Linked DNA regions of Homo sapiens. The protein of the gene in region 1 purifies or fractionates together with the protein of each later gene. This does not show direct contact. Each region holds a gene or a part of one and is shown on either strand. Other genes may lie near its edges.

The links.
Region 2: the proteins of BCL7A (region 1) and CAP1 purify together in Homo sapiens (co-immunoprecipitation; 3 studies listed by BioGRID and IntAct, with this or other methods). This does not show direct contact.
Region 3: the proteins of BCL7A (region 1) and TWF2 purify together in Homo sapiens (co-immunoprecipitation; 3 studies listed by BioGRID and IntAct, with this or other methods). This does not show direct contact.

What each region holds. Positions count from the first base shown.
Region 1 is NC_000012.12:122,028,262-122,031,909, forward strand, and holds part of BCL7A (B-cell CLL/lymphoma 7 protein family member A), read left to right. Parts: intron 1-2,438; coding exon 2,439-2,520; intron 2,521-3,648.
Region 2 is NC_000001.11:40,047,090-40,050,737, forward strand, and holds part of CAP1 (adenylyl cyclase-associated protein 1), read left to right. Parts: intron 1-3,648. UniProt on the Homo sapiens protein: Directly regulates filament dynamics and has been implicated in a number of complex developmental and morphological processes, including mRNA localization and the establishment of cell polarity.
Region 3 is NC_000003.12:52,236,986-52,240,733, reverse strand, and holds the start of TWF2 (twinfilin-2), read left to right. Parts: upstream 1-1,575; 5' UTR 1,576-1,717; coding exon 1,718-1,742; intron 1,743-3,748. UniProt on the Homo sapiens protein: Actin-binding protein involved in motile and morphological processes. Inhibits actin polymerization, likely by sequestering G-actin. By capping the barbed ends of filaments, it also regulates motility.

The DNA.
Region 1 (3,648 bases):
TGGCTGCATTCAGCTTGTAGCCTGCGGTGGCCTCGAGCCTCGCTGGGAAGCAGCTGCAAACTTGCATCTTGGCTGATTTGCGGCCGCAAAGCCCAGATCTCTGGCACACTTTCTGCCCTGAAAGGTGTCCTGTGTGTTACAAGTCAATTACTTTTTTTTTTTTTTCCCAAACACAATCAAACCTTGAATGGGTTGATTTACTGGGAAGCTGGTCCAGGGCTCATGAGTAATGAATGGCTTTGGCCAATCTGCATGGAGTCCTGGCAATTTGTCATTCTTCCTCCAGCTTCTGTTACCCTGGCGCTCCTTTAGAATGATTCTTGGTTTTCATGGCCAACAGAATAGCAGGAGGTGGTGTCTGGGGTCCGAGCCCAAATCTAATTCTCTTCTGCCACTTCCTGTCTGTGAGACCCCAAGCTAGTGGTATAACCTCTCTGGGCATCCTGTTTCTGCATCTGTAAAAAGGGTGACAATCGTCCCCCTCTTGTAGCCTGTTGGGAATCCCAGGGAGAGAGGGTGTGTAAGTAGAGTGCTTGGCGTGGAGCCTGGCATGTAATAGCCTGGGCACACAGTGGCTATTGTGATGGTTGCTCTAACAACTGAGGTTCTTCCCAGGAGCACTCGGTCTCTTCTGGACACCTTCTGATTGCTCAGAATTGAGGAGGGGAAAGGTGGGCATTGTGGTTTGTCTGCTCTGCCCACAGGAGGCAGGAGACGGGCCAGTGGACTTAGACACTCGTCTTTCCTGCATCGTTTCTGGGTGAAAAGGTGCAAGGAGGAGGGAGCAGAGAGGCTGGTCTCAACAGCTGTGCTGGGTGAAGGGTTCGAGTGCTGGCTCTGGGAGAATGAGTTCACCTTCACCGCCCTGTGCCTCGGTTTCTTTATCTGTCAAATGGGGAAGTTGCCATTTCCTGCCGGATGAGCCGGCACAGTCCTTGGTACATAGAAGGCGCTAGGAATGGCCACTGGTATAATAAGAAAAGCCGGGCCGTAGCGTCCTCTGATGGAACACGTGGGACCCGAGCGGGCAGGGTTTTTGGGGGTGAGGTGTCTGTGGTTTCGGCTGGCTGGGTTTGAGTATGCTCCGTCATCCCGCAACCCCCGTGGTGACAGGGTGGGAGTCCTGTAACCTGTCACACCAGCATGTGAGGGCCACATGCCCCACGAGGGGGTGATCTAAGGCTGAGTTTGGGCAGAGAGGCCAAAAAAAGGTGCCAGGCAGCTCACGGACAGAGGTGCTCGTGCCACACAGAATTCTCAGTTCTGGGAATTTTTGTCACCAAAATTGCTGAGGACTCGGGCAGCTACGTCGCCTGTACCAGGGGTGCGCCTGCCCCAACAGTGCCTGCTGGGCCCCTTAAATCCGCCAGCCTCCTAGCTGAGCCATCAGTGGCTCCTTGGTGGCCTCGCAGGTCTCCTGATCTGGCAGAGTCTTGATTTAGGAGCCTCGGTTCCAACCCCAGCCCTGCTTCTGGGAGGCTCTCCTGAGCCTCAGTCCCCTCAGGGGTGTGGCTGCTGGGTCTTCGTGGCGGTAAGGGACAAGTCGGAGTGCAGGGGGTCAAGGACAGGAGGTGGCTGGCTGTAGCAATAATCGGAAAAATGACAGTGGCTCGGAGCAGAGTGGTGGTGGTGGAGGAGAGGGTGGGCATTGTTATCTCGAATGAAAACCAGTCCTGTTTGCTTCTGTGGCTTGTAAGTTTCTCCTCATCCATAAACCTGCCTCTCACAGTGGGGGGTCTGGACTCCGTCCTTCAGGCGTTTGTAATGCAGCTGGGGTGACCTTGCAGACAGGGTCACTAGGAGCCCTGAATCAGGGGTGCAGTTCCCCTCCCACCTGGCTGCACCCACACATTCAGGCTGTGTAACCTCCTTTCGGGCCGAGGTCACCACTCCCTGGCTCTCCTTGGCCGCCACGAAGGGCATTCTTCCGGCAGAGTGTGGGCGGCTCCCCGGCTTGCCTGCTCATGCCTCCCCTGACCTCAGACGCATCGCCCAGAGGGCAGGAGGAGCCCCGGGGTGTCCTTGGTGACGACTCCACCCCCCATGAGAGGAATCGGCCTGCTGGCCTGAAGCCCTCTCTGCTGCCCAGACAGGCGCGGGTGGCCCAGTCCACTGGCTGCGTGGCATTGGCAGTGACACAGGAGGAACCTGGGCCCGACTCGTGCCACCCATAGGAGTCCTTGTAATGGCAGCCCCACCCTCAGCCTTTTTGGCGACAGCCTGGAGAGGGCAACCACCCTATGTGGTGTAACGGGTGGAGAAACCAGGCTTAGATGGGTGATGTGGCCTGCCCAGGGCCTCCCGCTAGTGAGGGTGGAGCTGGGATTCCAACCCTCATCTGTGTGATCTGGAGCTTGCTCTCAGCCCCAAGGGAGTGTGGCCTGTGTCCCCCAGGGATGAAGAGTCCCCGGTAACAGGCTCTTCCTCATCCTCCTCAGGGAGAAGAAATGGGTGACCGTTGGTGACACATCCCTACGAATCTACAAATGGGTCCCTGTGACGGAGCCCAAGGTTGATGACGTGAGTATGGAGGGCTGGTCCCCTGGGGTGGGCCACCCATTCGTGCTCCTCCCACCATGGGGAGGGAGATTGTCCACTGCTACCCACCGTGCTGGGGCTCTGGGACCAAGAGCCCCTGGGAGTAGAAGGACCCAGATTAGACCTGGGGAGGCTGCTGTACCAGTCCCCACCCCTCCCACTCCAGCCCCAGAGTCTGGCCCTCAGAGCGGTGGACGGGGGGATCCCGCAAGCTGTGTCTTCTTCTTCTTCTTCTTCTTCTTTTTGATACAGAGTCTCACTCTGCCGCCCAGGCTGGAGTGCAGTGGTGTGATCTTGGCTCACTGCATCCTCTGCCTCGTGAGTTCAAGCGATTCTCCAGCCTCAGCCTCCCGAGTAGCTGGGATTACAGGTGCACACCACCACACCCAGCCAATTTTTTCGTATTTTTAGTAGAGACGCAGTTTCACCGTGTTGGCCAGGCTCGTCTTGAACTCCTGACCTCGGGTGATCCACCTGCCTGGGCCTCCCAAAGTGCTGGAGTTAAGGCGTGAACCAGTGCGCCCGGCCTGCAAGTTGTGTCTTCTGGGCCGAGCGCCCCCCCCAGGGCTTGGCACTGTGTTTTGGGGCAGGTGTGGTGGTGCCCACAGTTAGGCACGTTCTCCCCACCTTTGTGGTTCTGTTCCTGAGCCTCTGACCATCTGCCAGGCCCTGGGCTGATGCCTCACATGTGGCATCTCCGTTATTTTTCCTACTCAGCCTGTGGAGTTGATCTTTTTAACCTCTCCTCTGTACAAGTGAGGGCACAGGCTCAGAGAGGTGAAGCCACTTCACATGGCTCACCTCAGAGCTGTGAATGGAGCTCAGGTCTGTCTGACTCCAAAGCGCAGGTTCTCTCTGCGCTTGGAGAGGCTTCTGGTGAGTGGAGCTGCTGGTGACAGGGGTCCCCGGTGCTAGGAAAGCCTGGTGTAGGGATGCGGGGCTCCAGGAGGGCTCCAGGAGGGGTGGCGCCATCCCGACTTCCACCACTAGAGGGAATGCGAGGCGCTGTCCTGTGATGGCTGGCAACTGCCCCGAGCAGACAGTGCTCTCCCAACTTCGTGGTTCCCAGGCCAGTTACCTCCAGAGACCCCTCTCATTTCCATCCCAAAT
Region 2 (3,648 bases), on another chromosome or scaffold:
AAAATAGGGTATTATAATCTTATGGGATTTTGTGTTGATTAATCCCCATATAATCCCATATAATCTTATGGGACCACTGTTGATTTTGTGGTCCATCCATTGACCAAAATGTCATTATGTAATGCATGACTGTAGTTTCATAATTTTAAATTAATGCAGCTACAGCATTCACCATGAAATTATTTCTTGATGTACTATATGTTAACCTGATAAAAACAAAGTTCTAAAAATATGCCTCAGCTACAGTGCTGCTTTGTTTGCCTTGTATTACCAGACCTTTTGTGCCAAACTTTTCCATTTGGCTGGAAAATAGTTGAAATGTTTAATGGAAGGAGCAGACTTGCTTTGTTTTGTTTTGTTTTTTCCTCCAGAGGGCATTGAAATTCCTATACTTTAGTTAATTATAGACTTACAGTCTTTCCATATTCCTACTTGTAGATGAATCATGGCTAAGGACAAACGTCATCCTTGAATCCATCTTTATATATTAGAGTGGGAAATGCTGTTTTATTAAAGCAACTATTCAGGCTGAAATCAGCCAATGCAGTTTTCCCTTACACGCTATAAAACATGTAGAAGTAGAAAGGGACTGCCGAGTGCTCTGTGCAATTAGTCTTCATAATATTCTTTGAACGTAGGAGAGAAGAGAACCCATGACCACACAAAGTTACCTGTTTGCTCCAGACATTGAAACAGCTAGTTCCCAAGTCTAATTTCACTTTATACACTAACTTTACTCACTCCTGGAGTTTCAGGTAGAGGACATGTGTAAGGAGGGAACAGGAGACAGGTGTTGATGTTGGGTTGGATTCCTTCCCTCCGTAGAAGATAGGCCTTTCTTTTAAAATCTAAACCTCGGGTGGCAGTGACTCAGGCACTAAATGTCATTGGTTTAATCAGTGAAACCAAATGCTTAGAGAAGAACAGTGGCTCCTGATTTGGGTTAGATTTAGATGGCATCTTTTTTTTTTTTTTGAGATGGTGTCTTGCTCTGTCTTGGCTCACCGTAACCTCCGCCTCCCGGGTTCAAGCAGTTCTCCTGCCTCAGCCTCCTGAGTAGCTGGGATTACAGGCATGAGCCATTGCACCCACCCACCATCACGCCTGGCTAATTTTTTTATTTTTGTATTTTTAGTAGAGACGGGGTTTTGCCATGTTGGCCAGGCTGGTCTCGAACTCCTGACCTCAGGTGATCTGCCCTTCTCAGCCTCCCAAAGCGCTGGGATTACAGGCATGAGCCATTGCACCTGGCCTTACAGGCATGAGCCATTGCACCTGGCCTAAATGGCATCTTTACTGGGGCAAAGTGGTGCCTGTTATTTGGTTTCTGTGTTAAACAAGCCAACTTGTATCTTCTGGTAGCATGTGTAGGTTTTACTTTGTGACATGTTAAAACCTCGTGATAAGAATTCATTAGAAGTAGAACTAACTACTACATAGTTTAGTGGTAATTTAGAAGGGATAGTCAAGTAGAGATTTTTATTATTATTATAAAATATTATATGTTAAAAGAAAGTTTGGAAAACAGGTAGAAATTGTCAAAAACCCATCACCCAAATGTGACAAATATTGTAAATTTTGCGTTCAAGTTTTTTTCCACACTTCATTTAGCTATTCCCCTATAATTAGAAGTCCAAGATAGATATAGATAGATCAATAGATCTAACATTGCAGCAAACATCTCCATGCTTATCACTTTTCTCACATTATGATTTACTTTCTTAGGATAAAACCTCAGGAACAGGATTACAAAATTAAGAGAAGCATTTTGAAGCAAATCAATTGGGCTACCATAGTAGACAGGCTGATTTGTATGGGTGCTTTATTTTCAATTTTACCTAAGGATGATGACTTAGAAAAACAACTGTGGGACAAAGTAGAAAACATTTCAAGCATAGCAACTTCCTACTCAAGTAGAAATTCATGCTACTGTCTTAATTGCCTGGTGGGATGCAACAAGAACTGCACGCATAACCTGGTTCCATTTACTTCTGAATGACTTCCTTGAATAGGCAGAAGGAATTGGGTTAAGTTGTTAGAAGTATAAGAGTGTGAAGCAGCTTTGGCAGGAATCACTAGCCATTTCTAATTTTTTTTTTTTTTTTTTTTTTTTTTGAGACAGAGTGTCTCTCTGTCGCCCAGGCTGGAGTGCAGTGGCGCGATCTCGGCTCACTGCAAACCTCCGCCTCCTGGATTCAAGAGATTCTTGTGCCTCAGTTCTGGCAGAAGGTGGTGTTTTTACAAGATGATTTCTAGGATTACAGGCATGCACCACCATGCCTGGTTAATTTTTGTATTTTTAGTAGAGACGAGGTTTCGCCATTTTAGCCAGGCTGGTCTCGAACTCTTGACCTCAGGTTATCTACCCGCCTCAGCCTCCCTAAGTGCTGAGATTACAGGCCTGAGCCACTGCGCCAGGCCTGGTTTTTTGGTTTCAAACCACAATAGACATTGCTGGAGAATCAAGCTCATAGTTTCTTTTTACTCTGCATGATATCCCTCCAAAAGCTTGTCTGTTCTCATGACTTCATGACAGTTCTTTGCCAATGATTTGCAAACATTATCTCCAGTCTTGATTCTTTCCTAGGCTTTATTTCTAAATACTCACTAGTCATTTCCACTTAGAAGCTTTGTCTTCTTTTCAAACTCAGCATATCCAAAACTGACCTCATCTTGTTGCCCTAACTAGAACATGCCACAACCCATTTCTGCCTATAATGTCATTATTCTCTTAAGGCCCCCATATTTGCAAATCAGGAGTCATCTTTGCCTCCCTTCTCTGAATGCTGCTGTGCTCACAGTCAGTACCATACAGTTAGTACTTGTTCTCAGTTTAATGCACACTTGTTTCATATGACCTCCTAGGGCAGAACCAAGATTCGTGGGTGGAAGTTGCAGGGAGGCAGATTTGCCTCCATATAAGGAAGAACTTTTTAATACTTTGAGCTGTCTGAATGGAATGGACTGCCTCCAGAAGTCTCGGGTTCTCCATCACTGAAGGTGTTTGAGCAGAGGCTGCCTGACTAATTGCTAATTGAAAGGACTGTTCTGGCATAAGATGGTGTTTTTACAAGATGATTTCTAGAATCCCTCTAATCCTGAGAGCCAGTGAGTCGATAGAAGGTAGCTTTGTCTCTCCTGCTAGACTCCCTTAGGACAGGGAGACTATTTTACCTTTCTTTTATATTCTGTACAGCACTTAATTCAGGTGCTGGTCTCTTAATTGCCTAAAGATGATTATTTACAGGTTAATTGATTCTTTTCATTTTGTTCCAATATTTGGTTAAACACCAAATATTGTGGATTTTTTTCCTTTGAAATATCTTGGGGAGACCAAGGCAGGTGGATCACCTGAGATCAGGAGTTCGAGACCAGCCAGGCCAACATGGCGAAACCTTGTCTCTACTAAAAATACAAAAATTCGCCGGGCGTGGTGGTGCATGCCTGTAGTTCCAGCTACTCGGGAGGCTGAGGCAGGAGAATCGCTTGAACCTGGAAGGTGGAGGTTGCAGTGAGCTGAGATCATGCCATCACACTCCAGCCTGGGCAACAGAGTGAGACTCCATCTCAAAAAATTACAGTAATAATAAATAAATACAAATATCTTTTGTAGTAGCATTATTTTAGATGAATAACAGCTTTTAACCT
Region 3 (3,748 bases), on another chromosome or scaffold:
GAGCTGATGTAACAAGTAGCTCTGTGTTGCTGGCACCATCTGGCTGTAGCAGGGTTCAGTGTGGGAGGCCTTGCCTGTGAACTGTTCTAGAAGGCAAGCTGCAGGGCTGCATAACACTCCATTTTCCACTGTGAGTGCTGGGGGGACAGTGGTTAGCAGATGACATAGGCCCAGTCTTCAGGGTGAGCGCAGGAAGATGAATGAGAAAACCCTTCAATTCTGTGTAGCTGGGCTCTCTGGGGATGAGAAACTCAGGGGTTGGGGGGCACAGAGGAGGCCTCAATGCAGGCTAGTGAGGGTGGGGAGCAAGACAGTAAATGGAGCTGAAGCTGGGGCCAGATGCCAGGTAGGCCACACATTTCATCATCACATCTCTCAGCAACCCCAGCCCAAAAAGCTGGCCTCCTTTCCAATCTTCCCAGCCAAAGTCCCTGGACAAGCTGATTGGACCAACCAGAGTCAGATGCTCATCCCTGACTCATCACAGTGGCCTGGAAGATGCCACATGTTGACTAGTTGGTAGCAGCAGGCAGGTACTGGTACCAGTAAGGCAAGGCTGCTGGATATAGACACAGAAGGTCATTAGGACATGGGAAGTTCCTCACCAGGCTCTGGCCCTCTTTCAACCTCTGGGCCTTTGCACATGCAGTGCCCTCTTCTCAGAAAACCTTTCTGGCTGGGACTAGTAAGTGGCTCACGCCTGTAATTCCAACGCTTTGGGAGTCCGAGGCGGGCAGATCACCTGAGGTCGGGAGTTCGAGATCAGACTGACCAACATAGAGAAACCCCGTCTCTACTAAAAATACAAAATTAGCCAGGCATGGTGGTGCATGCCTGTAATCCTAACCACTCGGGAGGCTGAGGCAGGAGTGAACCCGGGAGGCGGAGGTTGCAGTGAGCCGAGATCGCGCCAGTGCACTTCAGCCTGGGCAACAAGAGGGAAACTCCATCTCAAAAAAAAAAAAAAAGAAAAAGAAAAAGAAAGAAAACTTTTCCCTCCACTCTGCTGGGCTGTTTCATTCTCCCCTCTAGGTTTCCAATCTTCGCCTTCTCCTGGCAGCCCCTCACATTGTCTCGGCGGGCTCTCACCACCATACACTCCATCTAGTGGGTGAAGGCGGGCCTAGGCCCGTGAGGGCAAAGCCTAGCGGCCATGATCACCCCGAGGTGCCCAGGACCCCACGGGAGGCGCTCAAGAAACGGCCCCTGGGGAAGAGCTGGCGCGCCCACCCACAAGCAGACCCCTTCCTGGGTGCAAACCCGTGTACGCTGGGACCCACTCCTATTCGGAGACCCACCTGGCTTGGGGCGCACAGATCGGGCGCGCGCGCACGATCCGCCCCACCCACAGACCACCGTGATCAGGGCGCACAGACACACACGCGCGTCCTCCCACGCACGCTCGGTCACACGCAGGCCCCCCTCTCCTGCCACAGAGGAACGCGCTGGCGTGCGCACGGCGGATCAATCATCATCCTTAGACCCACCCGGACCGAGGCGCAGGCTGCGCGCACGCGCGGCCCCGAGTCCCCGCCTCCCTGCCGCGCCTGTCGGGGGCGGGGCGCCGCTGGGGGCGGGTCCTGCGGCACCGCCCGGGAAGCTGCGCGAGGGTCGACAGCCTCCGCCACATCCTCCACCTCTCTTGGTCCAGCGAGCGTTGCCGGGCCAGGGTCAAGCGGAGGGCTCCGACGGCGCGGACGGAGCGAAGCGCCGAGCCATGGCGCACCAAACGGGCATCCACGGTGAGGGCGGATGGCGGGCGGGCAGGGGGCCTCGGTCTGGGCTCTCGGAAGCGCCCCCCCCCGGCTCTCGGCCCCTCCCTCCACCCCACACCAGCCGGGAGAAAGCTTCCTGTTCTCTTTTGCAGCCGCGGGTCGCCTGGGGTGGGCACATCTGGGGGAGTACGGACGTGGTGTGCATAGCTGGGAGTGGGTGTATGTGTACGTACACAACTGGGGTGGAAGTATCTGTGTGCCTACCTGGAGATGAATGTGGCTGTGTGTGCCCATCTGTATATTTTTGTTCCTTTCCGGGAGTGGGTGTACACGCATGTGCACACGTCTTCCGTGTACAGTCCTGCCTGTGCACCTCTGGATGTGACTCGCTTGTGTACATCTAGGGTCATTCATGCACTGGCACTAGTGACTGTTTGAATGGACACTGTAGGTCGCATAGGACCCTCTTTAGACATCAGTGTTTCATGGCAGTGTGCACATGTATGTGGGTGTCTGTGTGTGTGCACAGTTGGAGCGCGTCTCAGTGTGCATTTTTGCCAAGGATGCATATACCGCATGTGTCTGACTTGAATGGGCTTGTTTATGTGTGTTAGGAGAAGGCCCTGACCTTTGCTCCTCCCAGGACACTCACTCTCCCCAGGCTAGGGAAAACCCGGAACAGAGACTTCTACGTGGGATGGAGAAAGCTGCCTATCTGACCTTGACCTCTGACCTCCCTCCCATTTTCCACTGTGACTTTCTGAGTCTGCCTCAGTCTGGTTGGAAGATCCCAGCTCCAGGCTGCAGACAGAGAAGAGGTCCAGATATGGGGTTTTGTGGGGAGAGTCCTGGCCCTAAAGAATCCAGGCCAGCTCCCACCCCCAGCCCCCAGCCCTAGGAAGCTTCACCATTCCCGCATCACACCCTCCCCTCCCCTAGGGGTCCCAGTTTCCTTCTTGGACAGGCTGTGAGAGAAGCAATGGCTGGGAGCCAGGTGCCCTGACTCTACCTGGGGCTCAGTGTCCTCCTCTGTCACTGGCCTGAGAGAGCTGCCTGGCCTGTGGGGAAGGCCCGGGCTGTTTGCCCAGACAGCCTGGCGGGTTTGGCCATCAGCCACCCCTCCCACCACACTAGGATCCCCTGCCTGGGGCTGCCACCATCGACCTGCCTGACCACCTGAATCCTGGTGCGGTTGTGGCCACTTGGTGGCTGGGCTGCCCTGAGAAGGTTTCCCTGGCCCCGCGAAGGCAGGGGCCTGGGTCAGGGCCAGGGCTCCCAGATGGGCCAGCCTTTCTCCAGGAGGAGCTGGCGGGCAGGCTTCATGACTCAGCCCCACAGGAGGGAACTGCCTCCTGGCCAGCTTCTTCCTTCCCCTTTGTCTGGTCATAGCTGCTGCCTCCCAGCCTCCAGCCCTGGTGGAGGAGATCCCAGGAAGTTAGCCACCCCATACCCCTTCCCTGCTGCCTCACTCCCTCCTTTCCCATAGTGAGACAGGCCCACCGAGGGGGTCACTGGGGACTGGGCTGCCCCTAGCCCTCCTTCCACCTGTGAGCAGCCCACTTCTTCCCATTTCTGGCCTGGGAAGTTGGCAGCAGAGATCACCCTGGAGGACCAGGTGCCAGCCCTGTCCTGACCATAGGTGTGGATCTGCTGACCGCAGAGTAGGCAGGAAAGGGACCTGTAATGTGAGGCTCACTTGAGTCGGAGGGAGGGTGTTCATGAATCATTGATAATAGAGGCTCAGGTGTCCCAGGCCTGGCCTCTGGATTATTGATGGTGGCTGGGCAGGCATTGGGGCTGGGGTGGGCAGGGATGTGCCTTTCCCTGTGGGGGTGTCAGTTTGCCCTGGTAACACTAGAAGGGGCCCGTCGGCCTGTCCCTTAGGGGAGCTTCTTGGCCTTCCTTCTGGGAAGGTCTGGGCAGGTAGAAGGGGCAGCTCAGCACAGTCAGCTTGCTGTTATTATCATAATAAAAGATTAATTGTTATTAATAGAGGCCACCATCGCCAAGCCCTTTCTCCCATTTACCCCTCA